Linked DNA regions of Homo sapiens: regions 2, 3, 4, 5 and 6 are each reported to be linked to region 1. The links are microRNA targets in miRTarBase. Many come from high-throughput screens and were not tested one by one. Region 1 holds a microRNA gene; each other region holds the end of a gene's coding sequence.

Region 1 (5,028 bases):
TGTCTTTTAATTAACATTCAGAGAAGAATGCCCTGATTGCCAAGGATATATTTTCAGCTTTGTGAAGCAAATTTTATGTCAGTTACCTGAGTAGTAAGTTAAATCGGCACTTTAAGCCTCTTTCTTCAGAGCATTTTAGGTACCAAGTTTGAAATCTACGAAATCTAATCCTCACTTAGATTAAATAGTCATTCAGAAGTCAGAAGAGCTCTGCAGATGGCCTGAGAAAGGTTTGAATATTATGGTTAAAACATTCAAGAAGAAAGCTTTCTAGAAACGCAGCTGCTATTTCAGTGCATGTTCAGTTAGCATTTTCTGACTGATAAAATAGAATTGAGAGGGAGGAATGCCAGTCAGGGTTCTATCTATTGAAAGGCTCTCCTAGTCTGCCATCATCTAGACAACAGAATGGTAGTTGTGACGTGGAGAAGTAGTATGAATAGGATCTTCCCACATCTTTAACCCAGAATTACTTGAGGAAATCGGGGTCTTCTTTTCTTTTCCAGGATTCTGCTATGTAGAATTCGATGAAGTGGATTCCCTTAAGGAAGCCTTGACATACGATGGTGCAGTAAGTATCCTCGGGTTTTCTCTGTCATAGCAGTTGAGATTGTTTTCTTTGCCAATACTTACACTATTTTCCCTTTATCATTAGCTGTTGGGCGATCGGTCACTTCGTGTGGACATTGCAGAAGGCAGAAAACAAGATAAAGGTGGCTTTGGATTCAGAAAAGGTGGACCAGATGACAGAGGTGATTGGTTCTTCTAAAGCTGAACATCATAAAGATTTGCAGTATGCCTACCAATTCCAACTCGTGAACGTTCCTAGTAGAACTCGATTATCTCATAGGTGTGATAGGTTCTCGTGAGCTCTTAAAAGTTTGCGTAAAATCCTAGAAAGAATGGCTGATGCTTCTGCAAGCCTGGCGTTTTTTGTTTTCTGTTGGAAGCAAAAGCTCTTAAAATGATTTCATTGAACCTTCCATCACTTGAGTTGTATGTCTTCCAAATGAATTTTTCCATGTTTGCGCAGCAAGGTAATGACACGACCTCAACTTTATCTTTTTTGTGTATCCTCAGGAATGGGTAGCTCTCGAGAATCTAGAGGTGGATGGGATTCCCGGGATGACTTCAATTCTGGTATCAGTATTTAAAGTATCACCACTTAATTTTTCCTAGGAGCCTTGCTGCTGTTCTCTGTTTCTTACGAGTAGCCCGCCTGGCCGGACTACTTATTTAGTTCCTTTAACAAATACAACTCTCCTGCAGGGTGCCCAGGCATGCAAGTAAGCCTCTGTTAGAGCCTGTGGGGGCAGGACTTGAGCCCCATGCACCTTGTGTGGTCACCTTTGTTAGCCTGCAGCTCCTTGGATGTGTACGGGCCTGGGTCCTTGAGCTCGCTCAGCAGTCTTTCTCAGACTCTAGCCCAGGGAAACTCCTCTGTGGTTTTGTGTATGGCACCAAGAGAAGTACTGTTCCTTCTGGAAAACATAGGATAGAGGTTTGGGTTCTTACATGGTGAAAGGTAGTCCTGATGGCCCTTTTTTTTCTTGGAGGATTGTGGGGAGGTCCAGTCCCTTGATGGTGGACCTGATGCACTTCGCCGTTCTCTTTCTTAGCCAACCCAGGCAGAGCAGCTGGTGGTATAGCACAAAGCATCAGTCCACACGCCAGGCCTCTGCCCTGCAGGGTGATTTTAAGCATTTTTATCATCTTTACTTTCTGTTTTTAAATTACAAAAGTATAATTTTTTATATATGCACATGATAAAAACTTCAGTTGTAACCCAGAAAGGTAGGAAGAGAAAAACAAATTTGTTTTCTTTCCCGCAAACTTGGGATGTGCTGTCAATGCTGTGCTGTATAGAACGTCAGCACCCTCCCCCCATCAAAACAAAACCGGTGTAAAGTAGTGGGTGAGTATGGGAGGGACTGGTGCACGCTGTCTTGTGAGTCTGAGATTTTTAAAAACTCAGCTTTGGCTGAACAGGTGACGACTACCTGTTGAATAATATAGTTCTTAAAAGTCCTGTAGCCAGTCAGAAATGAGCTTATTCATAAAAGTGCAGTATGGTGAAGTCAATCTGTAATTTTATGTATAAGCTAGTCTCTGATTGAAACATGCAGCAGCTGTCTTCTTAGAGCCAACCAGCAGCTCAGGGAACGGCCTTTCCCCTGCCAGTTTGGTATTCGCAGGTGTTATAGAAGTTGCCCACATACTAACGTCTTTCTACCCTTGGCTTAGCTTGGCCACTGGCGCTCAAGCAGAGACACAGTGAACACGGCCATGGCCTGGCCGCCACCAGTTCTGGTGGGAACTGCAGTGTTTTGGTGACATCTCAAACCCTATGTGGGCTCACTCGATGGAGTAATGGCTAATTTGATACTTTATACGTTATTTGCGAGAGTAGATCTTTTTTACTTTTTAATAGGATGGTGCTATTTTTTTTAATGATACCTGCTCATGTAAAAAACAAAATAGAGCAACAGAAAAGTACCAAGAAAGCAAAAACATTTCATCATCAGAAATAGCCAGTGTTAAACTAAGCTTTGTAAAGAAAACTCTGAAGATTCTCATGAATAGTTTGCTTCCTAGAAACCCACCAACAGATTTTTTGTTGTTGTTTTTTTTGAGACGGAGTCTTGCTCTGTTGCCCAGGCTGGAGTGCAGTGGTGCGATCTCGGCTCACTGCAAGCTCTGCCTCCTGGGTTCATGCCATTCTCCTGCCTCAGCCTCCCAAGTAGCTGGGACTACAGGCACCCACCACCACGCCCGGCTAATTTTTTGTATTTTTAGCAGAGACGGGGTTTCATCATGTTAGCCAGGATGGTCTCGATCTCCTGACCTCGTGATCCACCTGCCTCGGCCTCCCAAAGTGCTGGGATTACAGGCATGAGCCACCGCGCCCGGCCCCCACCAACAGATTTGATGAGAGATCCTTGTTCATCTGCTTCACCAGCGTGGTGTGAGCTATTTGTTTCACGCTAGACATTGGTGGTCGAAATCATTTAATCTCATAGTAAAGGGTGTAAATTTACTTTGTACTCACGTGGAAAGGTACACTTCACAGTTTAGTTTGGGGGAAACGTGAAGTTAAATGTTTTAATACTAACTAGGCTTGTTCACTGAACTGTGTAATGTGGGTAAAATACTTTGTAAAGGACCTTATACTCGACTGTATGCCTCCCAGTGTATTTCCCCTAAAGCAGTGCTCTTATTGGTCTAAATCTGTTCAGACTTGCTTTCATTACTTGGTTTGTTAAAATTTATTATTTAACTCAGTCTCTGAACTGGGTGTGAGATCCCTTGGTTTCCAAAACCCTTGCCACCTTTAAAGAATAGAAATCGGCCCCCACCACAGGTGATGCAGTCAGCGCTTATCATTGGAGGTGGTTCTGTGGAGTTGCTAGAACACTGAATGAGCCCGTGCGGTGCTGCTCCTGTGTGCTACAGATCACAACATTTTCGTCAGCTGATCATACCTAACATTGCTTTATGTGACTTTTTTTTTTTTCTTTTTTTTTTTTTTGAGACAGAGGCTCACTCTGTTGCCCAGGCTGGAGTGCAGTGGCATGATTTCGGTTCACTGCAATCTCCGCCTCCAGGGTTCAAGCGATTCTCCTGCCTCAGCCTCCCAAGTAGCTGGGATTACAGGCGCACACCACCACACCCAGCTAATTTTTATATTTTTAGTAGAGACGGGGTCTCTCCGTGTTGGTCAGGCTGGTCTCGAACTCCCAGCCTCAGGTGATCTGCCCACCTCTGCCTCCCAGAGTGCTGGGATTACAGGCGTGAGCCACCACACCCAGCCTATGTGACCTTGATTTTAAAGACGCCTCATTTAATGTTAGTGTTGATTCATTTAATAGTGTTAACATTGAACTCAGGGCCAGCTGTAGTAAGTAGTCTGTGGTGCCATCATTTCAGCCTGTTAGAAAGCTCATCCCACACCGGTTTTGTCTGTAAGACACCTGACAGCCAGCCTGCACTTAAGAACAGCAGACAGCACTTCACACTGCACCTGGGGCCACTTCAGACAGCGATGTCACCAGAAAAAGCCCAAAGGGCAAAACACCCGACACTCATCGTGAAAAGACTTGACAGCTAATAACTGAAACAGGCAGAGCATTATCGTTTTCTGCCTCAGCTGGGATCGTCGCATCTGTGCAGGTCCAGGACTGACTGGAGAAATGCTGCTGGTATCTAGCTTGGGATTACACATGAATTTTAGCGACTGGGTGGATTTGCAAATATGGGATCTGTGGATAATGAGGATGACTGTATAGTGCATACTGCGGGCTCTGGGGGTTCTTCTCAAAGACAAGCTCCCTGAAAGCTTGGAGCCTTGGCACCACTCTCGCAGAGAGTAGCAGTGGCACCCCCTGAGTGCGCAACCAACAGCAGCAAGCTCATTTGTTTAATTATGGTTTAACTTCTTTTCGCCAGTTTTTTTTTTTTTTCCTTGAGACAGAGTCTCACTTCATCACCCAGGCTGAAGTGTAATGGCACGATCTTGGCTCACTGCACCCTCTACCTTCCAGGTTCGAGCGATTATCCTGCCTCAGCCTCATGAGTAGCTGGAACCCCAGGCGTGCGCCACCATGCCCAGCTAATTTTTGTGTTTTTTGTAGAGAGTGAGTCTCACTGTGTTGCCCAGTCTGGTCCTGAACTCCTATACTCACCTCCCACCTCAGCCTCCCAAAGTGCTGGGATTACAGGCGTGAACCAGTCTTTTTACCAAATTTTAACATCAGTAGGTTATACAGTTAAAGTTTAGCTTTCACTGAAGTACAAGCCTGAAGGCCCCTTAAGACCATTGAGAAAATACTCTTTCCTCCTACACACCAGTGGGAATTCAGCATTTCTAAATGAGATGCAGTTTACTTCTGCCAAGAGCCCACTTAGCAGGCACACAAATGAATGGGGAAAGAACGCTTTGCCCCCACAGGAGGCGCCGGTGGGGGTGAGGCGCTGTGCTCTCTGCTCATGCCCCTCTGTGTAGGGCATGGCCAATTTCGGATAACTGCT
Region 2 (5,028 bases), not on the chromosome of region 1:
AGGATTGCCTATTAGAGTTGTTGCTCAATGGGCCAAAATTGCGGGGCCTTCACACCTCTGCATGCCTAGTCACTGGGTCTAGATATGCCCTAGGAAGGGTGTGACCTCGAGTGAAGGTGGCTGAGGCAGAACCCGAAGGACCTGATGGCTTAATGCTGTGTGCCAACCATGCCATGCTGGGAAGAGCATTGTTTCTTGAAGGGAGAGCTGGGTGGCTCAGCTCTGTGTCCACCACAGGGTGGGTGGGGGAGGGTTAGCAGGTGGCTGGCGGGAGGCAGGAAAATGTTCCCTGAAGGCAGCTGAGTGGGGCCTGTGGTCTTCAGGCATGTTGACAAGAACATCTGCTCTGTCGTGAAGGTGTATGAGAAAAGGACTCTGTGATCTCCTGAACCTAGGAAAAGCCACTAGCTGGGGAACTATTTCTAGGCCACTCCTAAGCATATGTAGGGCCTGCCTGACATCTGCCCTGCTCCTTAGCACTCAGCTTGTATTAGCCCATTTTGTATTATTATAAAGAAATACTTGAGGCTGGGTAATTGATAAAGAAAAGAGCTTTATTTTGGTTTATGGTTCTGCAGGTGGTACAGGAAGTGTGGGGCTGGCATCTGCTTCTGGTAAGGGCTTCAGGAAGCTTCCAATCATGGTGGAAGGCGAAGGGGGAGCAGGTGTGTCACATGGTGAGAGCGGGAGTGAGAGGGAGAGTTGGGGGAGGGACGTGCCACACTCTTTTAAACAACCACATCTTGAGTGAGCTCAGCGAGAACTCACTCATCACTTCCAGGAGGGCACCAAGTCATTCATGAGGCAACTTCCCCCATCACCCAATCACCTCCCATCAGGCCCCACCTCCAATGCTGGGGATCACATTTCAACATGAGATTTGGAGGGGACAAACATCCAAACCATATCACAGCTTACACTGTGGATGTGAACACAGCTGTACACATACACAAAATTTTATTGTAATTTATACTAAAAACCAATCTCCCTACAGCTCCTCGGGGGACAGCTCGCCGGTTTTCTCATTTGCTCCGTTCTGGGACTCGGACAAACGGGGCACAAGGCCTCTTTCTGCTGATACAGGTGGGTCCCAAGTCTGCATTTCCTGTCTGGACTCAGCATCACCAAGGGTTACATGATAGTCTTGAAGGAATGTTGCTCAGAATTTCAGGCGACTGGTCTGGAGGAGAGAAGGGGGCAAGTGCTTACCTTGAACCCGTGCAGGTGGACAGATGTGTGGTGGAGGCATTTGAGGGTTACCTCAGACCACATGCTGACCCACGCAGGGCCAAAGTCGCTCATTGTGTGGAGGCATTTTGCGGTGGAAACACACCTGGATGCAGGGAGAAGGGCTGGGGCCTGGCTCATGCATCAGAGGGTCTCTCTGGTAAGCCTTCTTCCTCCGTGGGACTCTGGAGGGTCTGGAGGCTGTGGCCTCTCTCCTGGTCTCTGGTCAGGTGGCCAGCTGGGAGGACAGCTGCAGTCAGGCCAGCAGGAGAGGGACTGTGACTGTGCAGGTGAGAAGGGTGGTCAGTCTTCACCCTCAAGACCAACTCAGAAGGCAGCCATTTCAAAGCGTCTCAGGCAGCCCAAGCTTGCTGGCCAGTCCACAAGCTTGGCCAGTCATCTTCACTGTCATGGTTGCCCTGGGGCAATGCCCGTAGCAGTCAAGAGACAAACCCAAAAGGGAACTAGGTACTCCACAAAATAAGGCTTTTCTGGGGTCCATTTTTGAATGGGAGTGAAGGAACCAGAATTGGGTAGCACAGGTGAAAGTCAGAGGCTGAAGGGGAGGGCAATAGGAGCCTCCTAATAGCAATGGGGCTCCTCTGATGGCTGCCATTGCTTTGAGGTCACCCTGACAGTCTTGCTGAACCTTTCTTCGATTTTGAGCTTAGCAAGCTCCTACTGGACCTTCTCTCCTTCACTGGGGCTCAGCTTGCAGGGGTTCTAGAAATATCTCCACAGATCGCTCTTCCTCCCTGGGCCTCAGTTTCCTCATCTGCACAGTGAGGCCTATTAAGCCAGGTGTTCTGACTTTATTTTTATTTATTTATTTTGAGACGGAGTCTCGCTGTGTCATCCAGGCTGGAGTACAGTGGCGTGATCTTGGCTGACTGCAAACTCTGCCTCCTGGGTTCAAGTGATTCTCCTGCCTCAGCCTCCTGAGTAGCTGGGATTACAGGTGCCCGCCACCACACCTGGCTAATTTTTGTATTTTTAGTAAGGATGGGGTTTCACCATGTTGGCCAGGCTGGTCTTGAACTACTGATGTCAAGTGATCCACCCACCTCAGCCTCCCAAAGTGCTGGGATTACAGGCGTGAGCCACCGGGCCTGGCCTGTTCTGACTTTAAAGGTAGGGATTCAGAGGCAGAAAAGAGGAGGTAGACTGAGAGGTTCCTGGGGTTAAAGGCTGGCAGGGAAGCTGGGCAAATGTACAGAAGAGCCCCCTGCTTATGTTTCAGGGGCCAGGGCAAGAGTGTACATGGAAGCCTACATACCATGTGGCTAAATATTTAAAAAGCAAACTAACAAACTGTTGAATAAAGTATGTTCTATTGGTTGACCTTGAAAAAAGTATTTTTCTGATGAGTGACCTGTAAGGCCAAGTTTGAATGAAAATTCCTAGACTCCTTAGAGTCCCAACTCGGAGCATGCGGTGTGGAGAGAGCTGGTCCAGGGCCTCAGCTGTGGCTACAACAAGAATGTTCTCCCACTCAAGATCTCCTGCTCTAGGGAGCGGGGCTGACCAGGGACCCCTGCTGCTGTGCTCTGAAATCTATCTTTGCTGTTTCCGCCAACCACTGAGTGCAGCAGGGATGCTAACGGGGTCTATTTGTGGGAGACACGGGGCTCTTCTGATGGCTGCCTTTGTCTTGAGGACACCCTGACAGCCTTGCTGAACCTTTCTTTGATTTTGAGCTTAGCAAGCTCCTGCCAGACATTCTCTCCTTCACCGGGGCTCAGCTTGCAGCTCGACTTACTGGTCCTCCCAATCTTCTCCGGCTCCCTCCTTCTTTCCTTACACACAATCATTTCCCCTAACAAATCTTTGTTCCATTCACTCTATCTTGACACATATTCTTGGAAGACTTGGGCTAACACATTGGTCCCCCGCCGGCCCCCCTTTATCTTCTTACCCCTGGCTTCTTCCCACACCACGAGAAGCCCCATGCGCAGGTGTATGGAGCCTCAGGTACCAGGCTCTAGGTGGTGGCAGGCATGTCCCCTTGGCCTGCAGTCTCCTCATCCCGCGATGGTGTGGGGAGTGACGCAGGGCCATAGGGAGCAGGAAGGGGGCCCCTCTTGTCCGAGTCTAAAGTGGTAGTGGCAGGGAGCCTGTCCTTCCCCTGCCTTCCCTCCACTCCAGCCTCCTGACCTGAGCAGCTCTTTCTCATGCTCCCCGCCTCTGTGCTTTTCCAGAACACACTTTGTAACCACCTGGGATGGAGGTGGTGAGCATGTGTCCCAAGACCCATGCTTGGGATATATGCTCAGTGGTGGCTCCATCTGTGTCTTCTTTCACCCTCAGGAGAGTCTGGTGGAGAACAGAGGAAACTGAGGCTCAAAGACATTGAGTGAGCGTCCACACCCAGGTCTTCTGATGCCCACCGCGGGCTTTGCCAGGACGTCCCAGCCAGCAGAGACAGCCACGTGGTATCTCACAACTCCCCTCTCAGTCCCTAAGAAATGAGTGTGCCTTTCTTCTCATCTTTAAAAAAGAGCTGCTTCTTTCTACCTTGCAGCAACCCGACTGGGAGAATGGAGAGCCAAGCGTGTTGTCCCCAAGGCCAGCTAGACACCAGCCCTTCAGAACTTATCGTTATATTTGCAATCTGGGTAACGATAGGCAAATCTGGAGTCACACGTTCTCAGGGGCCTCAAGATGTCTTTCAGCTGGCTGGCGGCCCCAAGGACTTCTGGGTCTGGGCGGATGCTGTCCCCACACTGAACAAGGATGGAGTCTATGTCGTCTTGCACTGGGGAGGGGAACCTCCCCTGGAGAAGTCGAGGCAGCAACTTCTGACACACCAGCACCAGGCTCTGCTTCTCAGAGATGCTTTCGCAGGAGGGCAGCTGGGCCTGGCAGCCGGAAACCAGGCAGCTAAAAATGTCTTTATTCTCTCCTGCCCTGTTGGCTTCTTGGCTGCCTAGAAAAGAAATGGGAAGTATTACACACCCTGCCACCAGTGCTCCTTGAGGGAGGGCACCACTAATTAGAATTCCTGGGTGGGGCCGGGCGCGGTGGCTCATGCCTGTAATCCCAGCACTTTGGGAGGCTGAGGCGGGCAGATCACTTGAGGTCAGGAGTCCGAGGCCAGCCTGGCCAATATGGTGAAACCCCGTCTCTACTAAAAATACAAAAATTAGCTGGGTGTGGTGGCATGCATCTGTAGTCCCAGCTACTCAGGAGGCTGAGGCTGGAGAATCGCTTGAACCTGGGAGGCGGAGGTTGCAGGGAGCCAAGATTGCACCACTGCACTCCAGCCTGGGTGACAGAGCGAAAAGCCATCTCAAAAAAAAAAAATTACTGGGTGAACTAGTATAGTCTCCTAGCATTTCCCTGTCACCAGGAGATTTAGGACTCAGGGACACAGTGGCTCCTTTTGAGAACCACGTGGAAAGAATCCACTCTGCTACAATAGAGTGAGGCCTGGGCATGGAAAACCCACTTACCCCTACCAGAAGTTAGGCTGATAATTGTAGAGATCACATTCATATTGTTAGACTCTCATTATTACTAAATTAGTGAACTCAGGAAATTATTGGGACTGGTTTCATTTGCGCCTTTAAAATGCAAAGTGAGGGCCGGACATGGCAGCTCACACCTGTAATCCCAGCCCTTTGGGAGGCTGAGATGGGTGGATCACCTGAGGTCAGGAGTTCGAGACCAGCCTGGCCAACATGGCGAAACCCCGTCTCTACTAAAAATACAAAAATTAGCTGGGTGTGGTGACAGTCGTCTGTAATTCCAGCTACTCAGGGGGCTGAGGCAGGAGAATCGCTTGAACCCGGGAGGCAGAGG
Region 3 (5,028 bases), not on the chromosome of region 1:
AGAGATAAGTGCATGAGGTATAACTAGTTAACCCAAACCTGTTATGTGGCATGCTTTGAGGTAACACCATAGTCCTTTTTGTGAAGGAAGTATTATATCTAGACTTCCCTCTTATGAATTATTTCTATAACATTATTTTAGAGCAAGAATTCCAAGCAAATTGCTTTACCTGGATTTTGAATTCTTATTTTCAGAATGCAAATACTCTATTCTTCAAGAGTGAACTCAAGACTACCATAAATAAATTTCATTTGTTTCTCAGCCTGTATTTCAGATTCTCAGACCCAGTGAGAGCATAACTGTGACTGTTAGGAGTAATGTCTAATTGTTGTATATTTAATTCTAACTTCTGTCCTCTGGTCAAATTCCAGGCTGCCAGGATATCGCAGATGAATTCAGAGCACAGGAGATTGATGGACAGGCCCTTCTCTTGCTGAAAGAAGACCATCTCATGAGTGCAATGAATATCAAGCTAGGCCCAGCCCTGAAGATCTGTGCACGCATCAACTCTCTGAAGGAATCTTAACAGGAACATGAAGCCTTGATAAAACAGCAGTTTTACTTTTCTCACAAAAACTTGTAAGGTAAAGGCCTAACTTGGTCTAGAATATGACACTTATTGTGGTGGATAGCCAAGCACATTGGGATCTCCACATCAAATACTGACATTTCTTCTACAGGTATAATAATTCATCATGCATTTTCATAATTAATAAACATTGGTAAAATTAATTTTACAGGTTACATGAAACATTGAAAGACTTGTTACAGAGGGCCATGATATTTTTCAAAGAAATGTGTTATACTAGATAATTTTTTTAAAGGTGATGTTTATCATTAATATAAAGAATCCTTTTAAAAGTAATTTAATGATTTACATTTCTCCTCTTTTGATTCAATTTTCTTATACATTTTTTCTACCCTATTAGTTTTCTAAAGGTTGTCATGAGAGGTATATTATGGAATAATTTAGTAGTCCAGTGACAGAATCGTATGAAATCAGTGTACATTTTAAAAAACATGTCTTTTAGACATATGCTTTATCTATAAAAAAGGAATTGTGTTCTAGTATGAACAATACTGATCTGGAAGTGAGAAGAGTTAGTTTCTATTCCAAACTTGACCAAGAATTTGGTTTGACTGAGAACGTTTTCCTCTCAGTTTTTGTACATTTATTTAGAGCAGTGGTTCTCAGTGGAGGTCAGTTTTGATCGCCAGGGGACATCTGGCAATGTTGAGACATTTTGGTTGTCACAGCTTGGGGGTGGGTTCAGGGGAGGGTTGCTACTGGTGTCTAGTAGTTAGAAGCCAGAGATGTTTCTAAACATCTTATAATGCACAGGACAGCACCCCTCCACTGTAAAGAATTATTGGTTCAAAAATATCGGTACTGCCAAGGTTGAGAAACTCTGATATAGAAGGAGTGATAAATATTGTTTTCACCCAAAGGAATACTTTTAAAGGATGAAGCTTACTAAACATATATGATGGAAGTATTATTCAGATAACATTAATATTCTGCTGAATAATTTTTTCTAGTTTAATCATACTAGAAAAAGAAAAAAAATCTACAAATTGTCCTATAAAATAAGGACAAACATGCAAATAATTTAACTCTCAGAAAGTACTAATTCATTCTGATTATCTTTCATACCTCTGTGCTCCTCTGCACTGACGAAGACATAATATGATTATACCTATGAACTAGTGCACAGCCTTTTCTGGCAAGAAAATAGTTTGTAGCAGATACGTGGTTGCTCTTTGGATTTTTTTCTATTGTTGAACATGCTGGGACTAGCTAGAATGCACATTCCTACTTCCTTTACCAAACGTTTGCATGCTTCCTGCAAAGCACTTACCAAGTGATTTCTCTTGAACCATCGGATATAATTTTGTATGTACATGTTTGAGGAAAAAAATGTAAAGCAAAACCTTTTACTGAACAGTGTTCTATAGAATTATGACACTAAAACAAAATTGTTTGTGGAAGCCCTGAAAGCTTTATAGTCCTGGACATCAAAAATTTTATTTGAGATGATGAATGTTTTGTTTTCATCTTTTCTTATATTACCACAATTGAGATATTTTAGTAATTGAAGGAACATACACAGATATTTGGCAGAAGTCGAGTAAGGAGGGGAAAAAAAGAGTCCGTGAGTTTCAGTCATTTTCACTGCTCTTTTCAAAAAGATTGTGTTGAGCTGGTAGAAGACTAAAGATGTCACTGAAGACATCACAGATACTATATTTATCTTTTGGCTTTGTGTACATTAGAGAATGTTGATTATTTTTATACAAAAATACAGCGGGTAATTTTTTTAATCTTTAGATGCCTCTTGTTTGAATGTATGCTTTGTGGAATTCTTTGTGTAGTAATGTTTTAAAAAAAGATGTTTACTGATAGTTACATGTAGGATTAGAATATGTAATATAATATAAGGCTCATGTTCCAGACCTACGATAGCTTGTAGTCTATGTTACGTATTTCTTTATATCACATTTTTAATCATTGGATTAAAGTATCAAGGAAAGCTAGGTACTCTATAATGAGTTTTCATTTATTAGCAGTTAATCATCATGACAGAATTGTCATATGCTTGACTTTTCCCTCTTCTTGGAATTTCAGAACACAAATACAGGCTAAGCATTAGTAAGAGATGGCCCACAGTATGAGAGAGAGAGGTGCAACGGAAAATCTCGCCTGGAATTAAAACTTTTCATAGATTATCCACGGTTAATACAAAATTTATTATATGGGGATAGACTGCTCCAGCAATAATGATTACATCCTATAACTGTATTACCTATGGCCTTTAAGGTATCAATTTTGAACTGTGTTGTAGGCTCTCCTTTTATTTGTTCTCTTTCCTAATAGCAGCCATTCTGTACTTATTGAAAGCCCCTGTGCCTACTGCTGTCTTAAGTATTCAGGAGGGGCTTACAAGAGGGTTTTCTATTGGAGAATACCGTATAATCTTAAATCTAGTCCAGATCTCTGTTGTCCCCACTCAAAACATACACAAAATATGCACTTGCTTTTTTCAAGTGAGTTTTTATTTAAAAATGGCTTGTTTGCTATCACATTGGTGCAGCTGTTTCTTTCAAGATGAGTTAATCATCTTAATTTCAAAGCTTCAGCTATATATAATGGATATATAGACAACACTGAGCATCCACCTCTCTCCTGAGCTTTAAAGCAGAGTTTCAGTATGATATAGGTGGGGAGAGTAAATTGTTTTCATATCCTTTCATACTACTACTAATAGTTTTAGGATTTTGACTGGGGAGAGATAATGACAAACAGAAAGGGAACATGGAGGTTCTTCCTACTTTTGCTACCTAAGTTTGCATTTTCTGACTTCCTTGCAGTGTTGCACTCTTTGTCCCATTGGGATAAAAAGCATAAGTTTGAAATTTTGCTTTAAGCCTTGTGTTCCTGGGGAAGTTAAACAACTAAGAGAGCTGATTTGTAAAAATTATTTTTTATATGACATTAATATTCATCAAGCCTTGTGTAGGCATGTGTAAGACACAGCTATGCAGCTTTGAGTAGTCAATATAGTATGAGATAGAGTGTTGTCCCAAATCCTCCTGTCACTTTTTAAGTAGCATATTATTTCCCTGATGGTCCTGTTACTTTGCTGTTGAATGCTCTAAACAGAACTTTTTAAAAGGTGTGTTTTAAGAGCAGTCACCTAGGAGTAGACAAGGTGGAATGGGAGGAGAGAAATGGTAATGCAAAAGCTTGAGCATGGGAAGAGTCAGAGGAGGAGGCCATCATCCTTGTTAGCTTAGCCTACTTCAACACTGAGCACATTTCTGCACTTTTGAAGTGAAATTCATGTTTTACTTAGAAGAAATAATTTTCTTTCATTAGGGATCCCAGTTGATTTTTGTTTCCTGGTGTATCAAAATACTTAGAACTATGAAACAAGTATTATTGTGATCATGCCTTTGAATAATTTTTGACGTAGCTTATCTTCATGTATCAAGTATAAAATTATAATGAGACATCTATTCACAAATACAAGTCTTAGATTGAATTGAAATGTGTTATAGTGCCCTGTCTCCCACTGACTTGTTCAGTTAAATGTCTTAAAGTACATTATGTACATCTTCAGGCTTTTGGTACCACAATGGCACAAGTATGGTAGGGAGGCAATATAGTCTTAGGCTATATGCCTATATTAAGTGTGTATAAACAATTTTTGAAAGAATACACTATTATAGATGTATGTGAGTGATGCTGACCTGACAGCCATATCCAGTGGATGAAACTGACTGGACACACTGTTAAAATGTTTTAAAGATGTATTTTCAGCCAGAACAGCCTGGTTATAGTTTGTGGTTTTCACCTTGGTGGATTGCAGGAACACATGCAGCCTACTGGCATTGAGCATTAGCTAATGGCATGAAAGGGCCTCATCTCACTACCTCTCTAAGGCCTCTAGCTCCAAGAAAACCATGAAAACTTCTTTCTTGGAGAGATCTTTGTCTCAGAATCCTTAGAGAGGATTTCGTATGGGGGCTAACTTTAGGAAGGGAGGCAGCTGGGGCAGGACTTTCTGATACCTGACAGTCATGTTCCAGAGCAACCTTTGGGCAGTGGAAACTGGCGCATCTATGCAAAATGATTGCTCAATCTCTATCTTGTGTACTACATATGTAACTAGCTGGGCCCTAAGGAAGGTTTTCTAGGGGGAAGGATAGGGAAGTAGAGGAGGAGACAAGTAGGAGGAACAAAGCATTCTAGACCCAAGAGGATAGAAGATATTTAGGATAGATATGGCTTTCATCCATAGTTCAAAATAATGCGTTTTGTTAGATGCCAGTTATAGCAGTAAATAGGTTATAGTTTTTATATGTCAAGATTTACCTGTAATCAGACTCATTCTTTCACTCTCTATACCCACTGTCTCCATGCTTGGGAGCATGGATATTAATAGTTCCAGTGATGTAGAAGTTAGTGATTTTTGATTTCTGAAAAAGGTGAGAACCTTTTATTACAGTTGGAGAATATTTGTCAAA
Region 4 (5,028 bases), not on the chromosome of region 1:
TGTCAGGACCTCCCACAGTAAGCCCCTCATATAAAATGATGTCATATTTACATATAAACCTATGTACATCTTCCCCTTTGAGCCATCTCTAGATTAACAGTACCTAATACAATATAAATGCTAGGAAAATAGTTATTTTACTGTATTGTTTGGGGGATAATGACAAGAAAAAAAATCTGTACATGTTCAGTATAGACCCAGTTTTTTCTTCCTTGAATATTTTCCTTCTACAGTTGCTTGAATTCATTGTTGCATGTGGAGGGCCAACTGTATATTATTTTAAGTATCTGACTTCCCCCAAAACAAACTCAGTCATATTTTAAGATTCCAAGCAAAATTTTTAAATGTAGTGTGATTTTAGAATTGTATTTGTTTACTTGAGCGTTTATTGACTCCCTTGCTTTGTGGCAGGCACTAAAGAAACATTTTTCAATGTTATAAACGATATTAAAGTTGGTCTGACTCTCCTTTGCACAGAACTGAATGACTTCATCATCCAGCTTGATGAAGAAGTAGAGGGTATGCAGAGTACCATTCTAGTTCTGCAGCAGCAGCTGAAGGAGACACGCCAGCAGTTGGCTCAGTACCAGCAGCAGCAGTCTCAGGCCTCTGCCCCAAGTACCAGCAGGACTACAGCTTCTGAACCTGTAGAACAGTCAGAGGCCACAAGTAAAGACTGCAGTCGTCTGACAAACGGACCAAGTAATGGTAGCTCCTCCCGCCAGAGGACGTCTGGGTCTGGATTTCACAGGGAGGGCAACACAACCGAAGATGACTTTCCTTCTTCTCCAGGGAATGGTAATAAGTCCTCCAACAGCTCAGAGGAGAGAACTGGCAGAGGAGGTAGTGGTTACGTAAATCAACTCAGTGCGGGGTATGAAAGTGTAGACTCTCCCACGGGCAGTGAAAACTCTCTCACACACCAATCAAATGACACAGACTCCAGTCATGACCCTCAAGAGGAGAAAGCAGTGAGTGGGAAAGGTAATCGAACTGTGGGTTCCCGCCACGTTCAGAATGGCTTGGACTCAAGTGTAAATGTACAGGGTTCAGTTTTGTAATATTTTTTCAGCAAATTTTTATACAGTGTCATTTAATTTGGGAGAGGATACTGTCCAGAAAATTAATGCATACTTTTGTCACAATTTGCCTTTTTGTGGGTGTACGTTTTGGTTTTTTTTTGTTGTTTTTTTTCTTTGTTTTTTTTTTCTTTTCTTTTTTTTTTTTTTTTTTTTTTTTTGCTTCAATACTTCTGCCGCTTTGGAAATTGTAACAGTTAATTACTTTGAATGTTGCTAAAAGGACATTTTGTGTAGGGTCAAGTTATTTTTATATGAGTTAATGTGAAATTGTAAATGGAAATTTTTCCTTAAAATACAACACAATGATGTCTGTATAAATCTGTCTGTTTAGAATCTGTGCTGTGTAAGGGCATTCGTACTCATGCTGTTACTGTACTTATGCACCATTCAGACTTGTTAGAGTAGATGTGGGTTTATGACTGCCAAGTTTGCCCAGTACAGTAGTTTTTTATCACTAAAAGTTGGACTCATTGATGGAGTCCTGTAGTAGTTTCAGTGTTAGATACAGTTTTTTCCACCATACATCTGTGCATTTTCTCTTTAGGTGACTGTTTAAGAAATTTGTGTGCATAGTTACTCAGTTTTTATGAACTGTTGTATCCTGTTAATGCATATTGCTCTGTGACTCCAGTATATCTTACCTGTACTGACCAAACCTAAATAAAGATTTTTATTGTAACTCCTTAATTAGCTTTTTTGTTTTGTTTTGGGTGTATGTTTAGCATTTGTCATTTTCATTGAGTCATTGAATTTCTACTCATTATCCTTCAAGTACCACAACAGTCAAACTTAAGACCAAGCATCGATTACGATTTTGCACACAATTTTTAATTTATGCCTTATTTTGCAAAACGGAGCTGGAGTTTAGGGCTACACTTAAAATTTTTTCTTGACTTATAATTGTTACAAAATATTTTAAAATACAGAAAAGTATAAAGAAAATAGTCATCTATTTCTTAGGCTTTTTTTTTTTTTTTTTTTTTAATTGAGACAGGGTCTTGCTTTGTCACTTAGGCTCAAGTGCAGTGGTGCAGTCATGGCTCACTGCAGCCTCAAAGTCCTCGACTCAAGTGATCCTCCCACTTCAGGCTTCCGAGTACCTGAGACTATAGGCATATACTACCACACCCAGCTACATTTATTTTAATTTTAGTAGAGACAAGGCCTCGCTATGTTGCACAGGCTGGCCTCAAACTCCTGGCCCCAAGGGATCCTTCTGCCTTGGCTTCCCAACGTGTTGGGATTGCAGGAGTGAGCTACAGCTCCTGGCCCTTTTTGAGTTTTAATTGAAAAGCAGCGTTGGTTTTTTGTGACCTGATTTCAAGTAGAGTATCTTTGTAGTTAGTGATGTTTGTTTTAAAACGCTGGCCAGCACTACTGATTTTTACTAACAACATATCTGGTAATATTATATGAGTAAGGGGTGTTAGAATGTAGGTAGGAGAAAATGTTTTTAAGGTGGAAGAATGTCAAAATTTGCTCCATTTTCTCAGAGGTAATTAAGTATAAAAGTATGATATTGAATGGCCTTCAAATGTGTAGCTTTCATATATGGTTGAAATGAAATTCCATTTCTGTTAAAAGCAAAGTATTGTTTTAGACATAACTTGTAATACAATCAAGGAACCTTGGGAGTGGAGTTATAATACTCGAAAACTGAGGTACAACTTATTTGAAAGTAATTGCTGCTTTTGCTTGTTTAGCTGATACAGGTATATCCGGTCTTCAGCAGTATGTTAAATACTGCACTGTCTCTTGATTAACCTTTTCTTTTTTTTCTTTTTCTCTTTTTTTTTTTTGCCGAGAGTCTCGCTCTGCCACCCAGGCTGGAGTGCAGTGGCACCATCGTGGCTCACTGCAACCTCCACCTCCCGGATTCAAGTAATTCTCCTGCCTCAGACTCCTGAGTAGCTGGGATTACAGGCGTGCGCCACCATGCCCGGCTTATTTTTGTATTTTTAGAAGAGATGAGGTTTCACTGTGTTGGCCAGGCTGGTCTCGAACTCCTGACCTTGTGATCCACCCACCTCGGCCTCCCAAAGTGCTGGGATTACAGGTGTGAGCCACCGCGCCCAACCTTGATTAACCTTTTCTACAGTCTGCTCAAGTGAGTAAAAAATCCTATACGATTTTTAATTTGCATGTGATTAAACATTTTGGTGTTTGATATATCAGATACTGTGTTTGGCTTTTGTTATGTACATCCTTCAACTTGACCAATTTAAACAAAAATGTAATTTCTCTGTCCTGTTGGTGTAATGTAATCAAGAGTTTGTGATAGGAAATTAATTTTTCAACCAGTGATACAATTTTATGACTGAATTTAATATGGACCTGTTAATGTGACATTTTCATGTTTCTGTTGAGTCTGCCTTGATGAATAACTCAGAGCACTTATTCTGTGGTACACAGAGTCAGTATTTCTCATTTCTGGAATTGGATGCTTTATTTTCTGGTATGCCTGTGATAAGAGAGGTGATAGAGTGGCTTCTGCATCTAATTGGTTTGAATCCTGGTATTACACTTAACTGATTTGGGCAAATGTATCCTCGAGGCTCGATATTTTGTTTTGTTTTTCTCCCCTGTAAGAGCACTCACTGCTGTCTTAGCTTGGGCTGCTGTGAAAAAAAAAAAAAACCACAGACTGGGTGGCTTTACACGCGCATTCCTCACTGTTTTTGGAGGCTGGGAAGTCTAAAGATCACAGTGCCCCCTGATTGGTGCCCCAGTTTGGTTCCTGGTAGTCCTCATACAGAGAGCGCAATAGATGTCAGTTTCCTTGGCTCCTCAGGTGTATTGGATACAACTGACTACTCCAGTTTTTGAGACACTTTTGCAAAACAATGTAAAGCCATTCCTTCTGACAACTTACTTTCTCAGATGTTCCCTCTTTCATGAGTAGTTATGCCCTGTACTCAAATCATTGCCTGCTGCTCTACGTCACTGTCTTGGGAGTTCACCTATCCCTGTGGTTATAGTGAACACTTTCATAATCCCAGGTAATGTCATTAACTGATCTGGACCCATCATGGGGTGGCTGTGCTGAGGGAGTGTTGAGCTAGCCCCTAGTGGTAAGGAGTACACTGCTGACCTTCATCCTATGGCAATTCCACTTTGGTGATTCACTGTTCCCCTCATGGAGACCAAGGAGGAATTTGCTGCATGGTAGGTTGGTGAATCCAGCCTGTAGCAAAGACCTGGCTTGGACTCCTGCAACTCTTTATGAAACTTAACCAAGAATGATTGCATCTTCCAGCGGGGGAAGATGCTGAGAAGGCCCCTTCAGGATAAACTGGCTCCATAGCACTGCTGTAATGATGGCTCCTCATGAGTAAGCACTTGGAGATTTTTGTGGCTTCCTGCCCACTCACCCTGCTCACCAGTCCAGGTAGTTTATGATTTGAGATCTAGATGTAATTTTATTTTATTTCTTTTTTTTTTTTTGAGATGGAGTTTCGCTCTTGTTGCCCAGGCTGGAGTACAATGGTGCAATCTCGGCCCACCACAACCTCCGCCTCCCAGGTTCAAGCAATTCTCCTGCCTCAGCCTCCCTAGTAGCTGGGATTTACAGGCATGTGGCACCACGCCCAGCTAATTTTGTATTTTAGTAGAGACAGAGTTTCTGCATGTTGGTCAGGCAGGTCTTGAACTCCCGACCTCAGGTGATCTGCCCGCCTCGGCCTCCCAAAGTGCTGGGATTACAGGCATGAGCCACCGCGGCCGGCCAAGACATAATTTTAAAAATTATCTTCCAGCTGGCCGGGCGCGGTGGCTCACGCCTGTAATCCCAGCACTTTGGGAGGCCGAGGTGGGCGGATCACAAGGTCAGGAGTTCGAGATCAGCCTGACTAACATGGTGAAACCCCGTCTTTACTAAAAATATAAAAATTAGCTGGGCATGATGGCACGGGCCTGTAATCCCAGCTACTCAGGACTCTGAGGCAGA
Region 5 (5,028 bases), not on the chromosome of region 1:
TGGCCCAGCTCTGCATGGGTGTTTATAGTTTATGCCAGTAAATGTTTCTGTTGAATCTGTCAGGAGCTGCAGGCCTGATCCCTTTTCAAGTTGGTGGTGAGAGCAGTGAGTCAGCATATTTGTAAACTTCAGAAGAGTACAGAACACTGATAATTTACTGTGGCACTGGTAATTTCATGAATATGGAGTGGGCCCATATGTTCATTTTTAGCTCTGTAAATCTCAAGAACTGTTACTGCCTTGGTAAGCTGTATCAGTGCATTGGCACCCAGATAAAGAGAACTTTCTGCCTGTCTTGAAGTAAATGAGGCATCAACCCAGACTTGTGTTAGGCTGGCCTTTGCTGTGGTTTTACAGTAGATGCTTCAGAACTGCTTAGAAAGCTCTTTTCAGATGGGAATGTGGGTTGCCTTCTGGTAGCATGGCCTGTCATCAGAGGTGTGGTTCCCCCAGTAGCCGGCCTATGACACGGCGGCTCCAGTTTCTTTATGTAATAAGGTGAGAAAGAGTGAGGAAGAGTTGTACAGAGCAAATGAATTCAGTGTCGATGTCTTATCCAGTGAGCGTTGCTATGGAAAAACCTGTTTGAAAACAGGTTCTTCCCATTAAGTTCATCAGTTTTATGTTTCATTTTTTTCCTTTTGGCCTTTTTAGGACCAGTTCCAAGTGCAGGCAGAGTTCCCCTAGGACTTCTGACTGTGGACCTTCAGCAGCCTCCATGATTTCATCCTTCCTGCTCGGGTCCCTGTTACCAAAAATACAGGGCCCTTATTTTCATATTTGCCCCGGATTTTTTCCTTGCAAGAGTTTCTTGATAGCAAATCCTTCTTTTAAATACTAGAAAGTATGAGGAAGCGTTCTCTTTTCATAGCCAGTGATTTAAAGAATAGTTATTTTTAAAGTAGACTAGTGGGCTTTTAGTGTTAAATGTCTATTGATGTTTTGCCAGAAGAAACATTGATTTTTCTCTTACTTTCTCTTTTTCAGGGCCTGCTTTCTTCCCCGGGCGATGTGCAGAGATCTTTGCCAGGGGTCAAAGCGTCGGGAAGCTTGGGGTCCTTCATCCTGACGTTATCACCAAATTTGAGCTGACCATGCCCTGCTCCTCCCTAGAAATCAATGTTGGACCCTTTTTGTGAAGATTGGTCTCTGTGGTGTGATTCTCTTCCCAGGTGTCCCTTTCTCCTCCCCTAGTGTCCTTAAGTCCTCCTCCACAGGGAACATCTATTTGGGCTTTGATGTTTAATAAAGTAGAAAGCACTGTCTGGCTGTGTGGGTAGAGACCATCCTTTCCCTGCATATTAGGCCAGCTTGTGCCATATACCAGTGTGGTGTCTGTGTGTGAAGCTGCATTGTTGGGTAAAAGCCCCGTGGAGTGCTGGAGAAATGCACTAGCAGAGTGCAGGATCTGTTCTGAAAGGCAGACGTGCTCCTCAGACATCAGAACATCACATTGGAACGGATTACTCCTGCATAACAAGATCCCATTTCTTTCCTTATTGATAAAACAAGATAATCGATGAGAATTCATGTTGCATGAGTTCGAGATAACTGAGGGGTTTAGCTTTGATTTTCTACATTTGACATGTATTCATCATTGAGAAACACTAAAATAACAATATTTTTAGAAAACGTTTAAGAATCAATTATGGTCCAACAATTATAGCTTCTGAGGTCAGTTTAAAGTGAAAGAAAAATCTGTAATACAAGGATTCAAAATATGTGAGGGTGCATAGGTATTTTTTACTCTATCTGTGATACTCTAAGATAGAGTACATGCAACAAAGATCTGTTCTGCTGTAAGAGTTAAAATGGACAAGTATTGATATCAATGCAGTATGAACATTAGGAAACAATGAGAAGCTTATTTTTGCCATAGGCCATACATGTTACTGTAATCAGTCAGTTATAAAATCATGGTTTTAAATACTTAATTGAGCTACTAGTTTCTCTATTGTCCCAGGGAGATATTAGACCTCTCTTTTTCTGAAGCTAAGCTTCAGCCAATCCTCCTTGTTTTATATCCTAATTTCCTTTCTTACTTCAATCTAGAATTCTCCAGTAGGTACCATCTCTGGAAAAAAGCTGGGTCTCATGTTTGAGACAAGTTCCCAGGTACTATTGAAGTAATAAGAAATATGATAAAATATAATACTTTAAAGTCCCAGTAGAAATAGCTAACAAAGGCTGGGTGCGCTGTGGCTCATGCCTGTAATCCTAGCACTTTGGGAGGCTGAGGTGGGCAGATCACTTGAGGCCAATAGTTCGAGATCAGCCTGACCAACATGGTGAAATGCCATCTCCACTAAAAATATAAAAATTAGCCAGGCATGGTGGTGTGGGCCTGCAGTCCCAGCTACCTGGGAGGCTGAGTCAGGAAAATCTCTTGAACCAGGAGGTGGACGTTGCAGTGATCCCAGATTGTGCCACTGCCCTCCAGCCTGGGTGACAGAGTGAGATTCTGTCTACAAAAAAAAAAAAGAAGAAGTAGCTAACAAAGATAGTGAAATAAGAATTATGTTTATGGATCTTTTGCTGAGTCTACTACTAGGAGAAAACCTGACCATATTACAACCTTGAATTGGGGCAGCAGTGTCTAACTCTGTAAGATTTGTGAACACACACACTTCCAGCTGACCCTTCACAGCTCTGTTATAAGCAGATCCTTACAACATTTTAAAAATGAAATATGCCCTCTAAAAATAATGCATGCCAAAAGGACTTGTATCCAGCATGCATAAAGATTTCTTAAAACTTAATAATAAAACTTAATAGTAAAAATAAAACAACTGTTTTTTAAAAATGTGCAAGAGTTGAGCAAACATTTCCCAAAAGATGACATATGAATGAGCACTTGAAAAGATCCTCAACATCGTTAGTCATCAGGGAAATGCAACTAAAATTCACAATGACAAACTGCATACCCATTAAAATGGCTAAAATTTAAGATTCATAAATCAAATACTGCTGAGACTGGAGCAAGTGGAACTTTCATGCACTGCTGGTGAGTCACAATGTAAAATGTTACATTGTGACTTTAGAAAACAGCTTGGCAGTCTCTTGAAACATACACCTACCATCTAGCCATTCTATTCCTAGGTTTACCCATATGGCCAAAGATTTTTATGCAAGTGTTCACAGTGTTACTTATAGTAGTTACAAATTGCAGTATATCCATACTATGAAATACTTCTCAGCAATAAGAAGGAATGAACTACTGATCCTCAAAACAACATGAATGAATTTCAAAACAGTATGCTAAGTGAAAGCAAGAGACACAAAAGACTCTATTTAATTCTATTTACCTGAGAGTCTAAAAAAGTCAAAAGCAGGTGGTCGGCAGGACCTCAGGAAAGAGAACTGACTGCAGTGGGTTAAGAGAAAACTTTTTGGGGTGATGGAAATTTTATCTTAATTGAGGTGGTAGGTGTACTTCAGGTGTAGGTTATACCTTTGTAAAGCTGGGAGAAAAAGAATGTAATGTAACATGTAGTATTTTACTGATTTTAACTACATAACACCAGTTGATAAATGCCTAGAGAAATAGCCTGAACTGTAGAATTGGCAGTTGTGCTCAAGGTGGCTCACTGGTCCACAGCTATTAATGATATATTCTCCCTTAGTTTCAGGTTCGCTCTAGTTAAAATCATGGCTTATGGATCATCATATGATAGCCCTTGTTGAAGTAGGTGGAACCATTTGTTCTGTCAGCAGCTACCCACCTGGATATTTTTGGGGGTGGCCAAAATTACTTGTAATGAAAAACCCACTAATGCCTAATTGTATATCCCAGCATGAAAGGGGAAAGATCAACTCCATGCATCATGTAGATGTTTCTGCCCTCGGAAGCAGGAAATGGTAGGCAGAAAAACAGTGTCGGCTGCATTGGAAGAAGCGAATCCAGCTCATGAGTCGAGGCTCTGCAGCCAGATCATCTTACACTTGTCCCTGGTGAAGCATTTGAACTGGAGCCAGGGCAGTCTGTGAGTACTGCCAAAAGCCTTTATTACAGAAGATGCACACCTTCTTAGTAAAAACTGGGAGCTCTAGTATTAAAGTGAAAATTAAATGGAATTGATTTTTGTTCTAGCTTAGAAAAAACTTAAATTCTACCACTACAGCCTCACAGTCCTGCAGTGCTCTTCTAGTTTTGTTTGTTTTTTGTTTTTTTAGACGGAGTCTCGCTCTGTCACCCAGGCTGGAGTGCAATGGCACAATCTTGGCTCACTGCAACCTCCACCTCCTGGGTTCAAGCAATTCTCCTGCCTCAGCTTCCCGAGTAGCTGGGACTACAGGTGTGTGCCACCATGCCTGGATAATTTTTGTATTTTTAGTAGAGACGGGGTTTCACCACGTTAGCTAGGCTGGTCTCGAACTTCTGACCTCAGGCGATCTGTCCACCTCTGCCTCCCAAAGTGCTGGGATTACAGGCGCCCAGCCTGCTCTTCTGTTTTTAAATTATTTTTGAATTGATCTTTTTTCACATTTTAATTTTTTTGGTTTAATAACGGTATGAGAGTAGGAATTCTCCCTGATGTGTAGGGTGAAAACAGTTGAGTTTCAGAGAGATCAATAACTTACTCAGAAGTCACATAGCCAATAAATGAGTTTGAGACACTATAAAAGAGTGACTTGGAGTCCACAGACCACTCACTGATTTGCATTATTTACTTATTTATGCGAAAGTAAATAATGGGACTTTCTACACTTTTTAAAAATATAAAAATAATGGGAGACAAAAAGTTAAAAATTGTTAAGTCCAATACTTTAAAAAAACTCTGCAAACTGTGGCCTTACTGAGTTAATCTACCTTTCTTCCTCCTGATTCCCTGAAGTAACTAACTGCTGTTAACAATTTAGCCTGTATTGTTCCTTAGTTTGGACATTTTCCTTGATTTGTACAGTCAGCCACACACACCTGCTCACATTTTTGGGGGTCATGCTCTACTTACTGGTTTGCAACAAGTTTTGTTTTTTATTTTACATATATCTCATGACATTTCACTTAATATGCCCCATTTTTTCAGG
Region 6 (5,028 bases), not on the chromosome of region 1:
TTTTGTATTTTTAGTAGAGATGGGGTTTCTCCATGTTGGTCAAGCTGGTCTCGAACTTCCACCTCAGGTGATCCGCCCACCTCAGTCTCCCAAAGTGCTGGAATTACAAGCGTGAGCCACCCGGCCCAGCCTATCTACCACCCTTTTTTTTTTTTTTTTTTTTGAGACAACAAGGTCTGCAGTGGAGTGATCGGTGATCAGTAAATTTTCTTTTCCTTTTTTTTTCTTTTTTTTGAAACGGAGTTTCGCTCTTGTTGCCCAGGCTAGAGTGCAATGGCGCAATCTTGGCTCACCGCAACCTCCACCTCCCAGGTTCAAGCGATTCTCCTGCCTTAGCCTCCCAAGTAGCTGGAATTATAGGCATGCACCACCATCCCAGCTAATTTTGTACTTTTAGTACTAAGAGACGGGGTTTCTCCACATTGGTCAGGCTGGTCTCGAACCCCTGACCTCAGGTGATCTGCCCATCTCGGCCTCCCAAAGTGCTGGGATTACAGGCGTGAGCCACCGGGCCCGGCCCTCTCTACCACTTTTAATTCCCCATTTTCCTGCTTCTCCTCGTGGAATAAATCATAAAAATTGACCAAACTTTAATATGGAGAACACTATATAAAAGCCATACTTCCAGACTGAATCTTTTCTTTTTTGGGGAGCAGGGGGGACAGAGTCTCGCTATGTCACCCAGGCTGGAGTGCAATGGCGCGATCTCAGCTCACTGCAACCTCCACCTCCTGGGTTCAAGCCATTCTCCTGCCTCAGCCTCTGAGTAGCTGGGATTACAGGCGCATGCCACCACAACTCGCTAATTTTTGTATTTCTAGTAGAGACAGGATTTCACCATGTTGGCCAGCCTGGTCTTGAACTCCTGATCTCATGATCCGCCCGCCTTGGCCTCCCAAAGTGCTGGGATTACAGGCGTGAGCCACTGCGCCTGGCCCGAATCTTTTCTTTAGATGAGATGTGATAGAGGCACTTTTTTACAATGGACCTCATTTAGTCTATTACAAAATGAAAATGTATTTAGGGTTTTTGCTCCTAATGGAGTTAAAATTAGTACCAGAAATCTAAATAATGGTAATCATAACTTGGGTATTTCCCTCCAATAACCTATCCTGCCTGTTCCTCCAAGCACTGCTTATATTGTAGCTTTCATTTTAGGTGGCTGAACTGGTAAAGGAGCTTCGTTGCGAACTTGATCAGCTTCTCCAGGATAAAATTAAAAACCCAAGCATTGATCTGTGTACGTGTCCTCGAGGATCCCGGATCATCAGCACAATTGTGAAACTTGTCACCACACAATAAAAAGCAGTCTTAGAGAGTGCTTGCTACTCACCTGCTTCTAGCTCACCTGGGAAATAACAGCAGAACCTCTACCTCGAACTAAAGACCTATTGGGGCTGGCCCTGGTGGAGGAGCCCAGGGCATGAAGCCCAAGGCAGCTGAGGCAGTGTATATACCCTTAGGGCCATTTCTAACAAAGCCTTGGCCACTCCCAGCACAATTTGGAGTGTCAAGGGTGAGAGCCTAAAACCCAGCTTGCCTGTCTTTGTCTCTGTGATTGTTCTGGAGTGAATTAAGTTCACCTGATAACTCAAAAGTGAATGTATAATACAATTCTGTTTTAATCTGTGTATTCTTTTTCTCCTACTTTTTACTGGGGTGAGAGGGGCATGAAGAGAAATACGCCTTTTTTTTTTTTCTTTTCCTGTCGCCAAGGCTCGACTGAGAGAAGTCAGAACAGAGAAGGGGAAAAAAAACCCAAAATTATGTGAACAAGCAAAATTAAAATTTCATTTTAGGCTATTGGCTACTGAGTAAACTTGACTTGTGAGGGGTTTTTATTTTTACTCATTAAAAGTCAACTTAAAAAAATTGAATGAGTTCTCTTTTGGTATTAAAGTGCAAGCTGGTCTTATCGATAACACTCCTATTCTTAAAAGCAGAACAATCTAGATGTCGTCATAGTTCTACATTTAGGAATCTTTACTCTGTCTTATCAACTCACCCAGACACGAATCACCGAAGGAGAATTTTAATAGCATTCCTGGGGCAGAGTTGGCATGGATGAGGTCAAAAAGGTTACCATCGGATTTACAGCCACCACAATGCTTTCCATGAAATTGCTTATTTTCAACCACCTGTTAGGTTAATGGGGCGCTAGCATTTTGGAAAAACATCAGGGGATTTACATTTTCCCTGGACATCTATCAGTATGGCGAGGAAGGATCCCAAATTGCTGAGTAGAAAAAATATTTGTATGTTTGTTTAGACCTCAGGGCCGGACGCGGTGGCTCATGCCTGTAATCCTAGCACTTTAGGAGGCCGAGGCAGGCCAATCACATGAGGTCAGAAGTTCAAGACCAGCTTGGGCAACTTGGTGAAACCCCATCTCAATTAAAAATACAAAAATTAGCCAGGCATGGTGACAGGTGCCCATAGTCCCAGCTACTCGGGAGGCTGAGGCGGGAGAATCACTTGAACATGGGAGGTGGGGTTTGGAGTGAGCCAAGATTGCACCATTGCACTCCAGCCTGGGTGTCAGAGTGAGACACTGTCTCAAAAATAAAAATTAAAAAATGGACCTCAGGACAGGGTCACTACAGGTTCCATAGTATGGATAGAATTCAAACTAAATCAAAACCATCTCAGTGAAATCAGTGAAAGGTATTCACTTTTCAAGGTATTATTTTAGTTAAGTTTTCAGGAAGTCTGCTTGGCTGTCCAAAATGATTATTATCAAGTATATTTAAGCTTTGGTGCACTTGAAGAGCTTAGACTCTAAGCAGTATTTTTAAAAGGCATCGATTCATGTCATTGCTTTAAATAAAAAACATACATATGCAAGCACCCACAGAATCCAAATTCTGACTTGCTGTTGAAACAAGGCTCCTATTACAGAACTGATTAGGCTGAGACCTTTAGAAGAAATTAAGAAAACTGCATTAAGCCTCTAAAAAAGTTTTGTTTTCCTTTTTTTTTTTTTTTTTTTGACGGAGTTTCACTCTTATCACCCCGGCTGGAGTGCAATGGTGGGTTCTCGGCTCACTGCAACCTCCGCCTCCTGAGTTCAAGCGATTCTCCTGCCTCAGCCTCCCAAGTAGCCAGGACTACAGGCATGTACCACCACACCCGGCTAATTCTGTATTTTTTTAGTGGAGATGGGGTTTCACCATGTTGGCCAGGCTGGTCTCGAACTACTGACCTCACGTGATCCACCCACCTCGATCTCCCAAAGTGCTGGGATTACAGGCGCGAGCCACCACAATCAGCCTAAAAAAGTTTTTAAAAATCAGTTTTCACGGCTGGGCGCGGTGGCTACGCCTGTAATCCCAACCCTTTGGGAGATCGAGGCGAGTGGATCACCTGAGGTTGGGAGTTTGAGACCAGCCTGACCAACGTGGAGAAACCGTGTCTATACTAAAAATACAAAATTAGCCAGGCGTGGTGGTGCATACCTATAATCCCAGCTACTCGGGAGGCTGAGACAGGAGAATTGCTTGAACCTGGGAGGCGGAGGTTCTGGTGAGCCAAGATCGCACCATTGCACTCCAGCCTGGGCAACAAGAGCGAAACTCCATCTCAAAAAACAAAAACAAAAAACCCATCAGTTTTCACTCTTGGTGCTACAGTGGTGCTCATGCCACCCTAGCTAGAGCCATCTGCCCAAGTGGGCCTGCAGCATTTAACACAAGTTTGCCCCAGAGCACTCAGCTGGGAGATAATTAACAGCAAAACTTTCCACCCAGTGAAACTGATTCCTTCGGGAAAGCCAGCTCTTGGATGGTCACTTCCAACCACATATAGATGCATGAATACTGTCATGATATAGATATGCCAGAATGTGATAAAGGTTGGGAAGCCTTGACATAACGCATTGAGTAAGAATATCCTCGCCCCAAAGACTAAACTTCTTAAGCTCATTATTAAAATAATGAAATAAGAAATGAAATAGAATTACTTATTTATGATGAAAGATCAGAATGCAGGCCGGGCATGGTGGCTCACGCCTGTAATCCCAGCACGTTGGGAGGCTGAGGTGGGTGGACCACTTGAGGTCAGGAGTTCGAGACCAGCCTGACCAACATGGTGAAACCCCATCTCTACTAAAACCACAAAATTAGCTGGGCATGGTAGCACATGCTGTGATCCCAACTATTTGGAAGGCTGAGGCAGGAGAATCACTTGAACCCAGGAGGCGGAGTTTGCAGTGAGCCAAGATGGCACCATTGCATTCCATCCTGGGCAATAAGAGTGAAACTCTGTCTTAAAAAAAAGAAAGAAAGAAAGATCAGAATGCAGTATAGTGTTTCAAGGATTTTTTTTTTTTCTTGAGACGGAGTCTCACTGTGTCACCCAGGCTGACACAATCTCGGCTCACTGCAACATCCGCCCCCGGGTTCAAGCAATTCTCTTGCCTCAGCCTCCTGAGTATCTGGGATTACACGCACCTGCCTCCATGCCTGGTTAATTTTTTTGTCTTTTTAGTAGAGACAGGGTTTCACCATCTTGGTCAGGCTGGTCTTGAACTCCTGACCTTGTGATCCACCTGCCTCGGCCTCCCAAAGTGCAGATTCCTTCTGCTCTTTGATAAACAAATGATTAAAACTTGTAAGATTTTAAAGCCCCTTAAGTATAAGTGATTGGCTACAAATCTCATCTAAGACCAATGTCTTTGATAAATAATTTTAGAGGTGACAGCTTAGAAACAGCAGAAAGTCTCTCCATGTTAATGATTCATCACGGTTAACTGTTCACCCAGTCATTCCATCGCTTTACATTTATGGGACCAAAAGACATGGAAGAAGCTTATCACTCTGGAACAGTCTGAAACTATTGCTCTGACAACAAACTGAATGAGCTGTTTCCACGTTGTTTCCATTTAGGGCACCTCTGTACTGTGATCATGCAAGTATTGACTGACACAGATTCGTGACCAAGATCTAACTTCTGAAAACAACAACTAGCCTTGTATTTATTAACTAGCTGAGTATTTTAAGCAAACTTTACCCCTGCATGTGGGGGAAAATA

What was found. Region 1 holds the annotated microRNA hsa-miR-590-3p (UAAUUUUAUGUAUAAGCUAGU, at 2,087-2,107, shown strand). A microRNA usually pairs through its seed, bases 2 to 8, with sites in the 3' UTR of a target mRNA and lowers its output. Matches are read on the target gene's strand: a 7mer-m8 pairs with bases 2 to 8, a 7mer-A1 pairs with bases 2 to 7 and ends in A, and an 8mer does both.
Region 2: miRTarBase lists DIPK2B as a target of hsa-miR-590-3p. Seed matches in the 3' UTR shown: 7mer-A1 at 2,207-2,213 and 7mer-m8 at 954-960.
Region 3: the mRNA of PHC3 is a reported target of hsa-miR-590-3p. Seed matches in the 3' UTR shown: 8mer at 724-731, 7mer-A1 at 3,473-3,479 and 8mer at 3,996-4,003.
Region 4: the mRNA of WTAP is a reported target of hsa-miR-590-3p. Seed matches in the 3' UTR shown: 7mer-A1 at 1,120-1,126.
Region 5: the mRNA of FARSB is a reported target of hsa-miR-590-3p. Seed matches in the 3' UTR shown: 7mer-A1 at 2,317-2,323, 7mer-m8 at 2,898-2,904, 7mer-m8 at 2,938-2,944, 7mer-A1 at 3,745-3,751 and 7mer-A1 at 4,061-4,067.
Region 6: the mRNA of DHX57 is a reported target of hsa-miR-590-3p. Seed matches in the 3' UTR shown: 7mer-A1 at 1,761-1,767, 7mer-A1 at 1,779-1,785 and 7mer-m8 at 1,784-1,790.

What each region holds. Positions count from the first base shown.
Region 1 is chr7:74,189,167-74,194,194 of GRCh38, forward strand. MIR590 (microRNA 590) reads left to right here and starts at 2,032; the gene lies at 2,032-2,128. It overlaps EIF4H (eukaryotic translation initiation factor 4H), which reads left to right. Exons shown (of 7, transcript NM_022170.2): 3 at 507-571; 4 at 656-752; 5 at 1,081-1,140.
Region 2 is chrX:45,147,840-45,152,867 of GRCh38, forward strand. It overlaps DIPK2B (divergent protein kinase domain 2B), which reads right to left. Exons shown (of 5, transcript NM_176819.4): 5 at 534-4,153. The coding sequence ends at 3,813. Among named protein-coding and RNA genes, the nearest start is that of DIPK2B, 51 kb to the right of the region's middle.
Region 3 is chr3:170,092,728-170,097,755 of GRCh38, reverse strand. PHC3 (polyhomeotic homolog 3) reads left to right here. Exons shown (of 15, transcript NM_024947.4): 15 at 372-5,028. The coding sequence ends at 526. Among named protein-coding and RNA genes, the nearest start is that of GPR160, 57 kb to the right of the region's middle.
Region 4 is chr6:159,754,551-159,759,578 of GRCh38, forward strand. WTAP (WT1 associated protein) reads left to right here. Exons shown (of 8, transcript NM_001270531.2): 8 at 478-1,769. The coding sequence ends at 1,061. It also overlaps a transcript of SOD2 not described here. Among named protein-coding and RNA genes, the nearest start is that of ACAT2, 5.0 kb to the right of the region's middle.
Region 5 is chr2:222,567,982-222,573,009 of GRCh38, reverse strand. FARSB (phenylalanyl-tRNA synthetase subunit beta) reads left to right here. Exons shown (of 17, transcript NM_005687.5): 17 at 988-5,028. The coding sequence ends at 1,139. Among named protein-coding and RNA genes, the nearest start is that of FARSB, 86 kb to the left of the region's middle.
Region 6 is chr2:38,794,573-38,799,600 of GRCh38, reverse strand. It overlaps DHX57 (DExH-box helicase 57), which reads left to right. Exons shown (of 24, transcript NM_198963.3): 24 at 1,159-1,872. The coding sequence ends at 1,302. Among named protein-coding and RNA genes, the nearest start is that of GEMIN6, 19 kb to the right of the region's middle.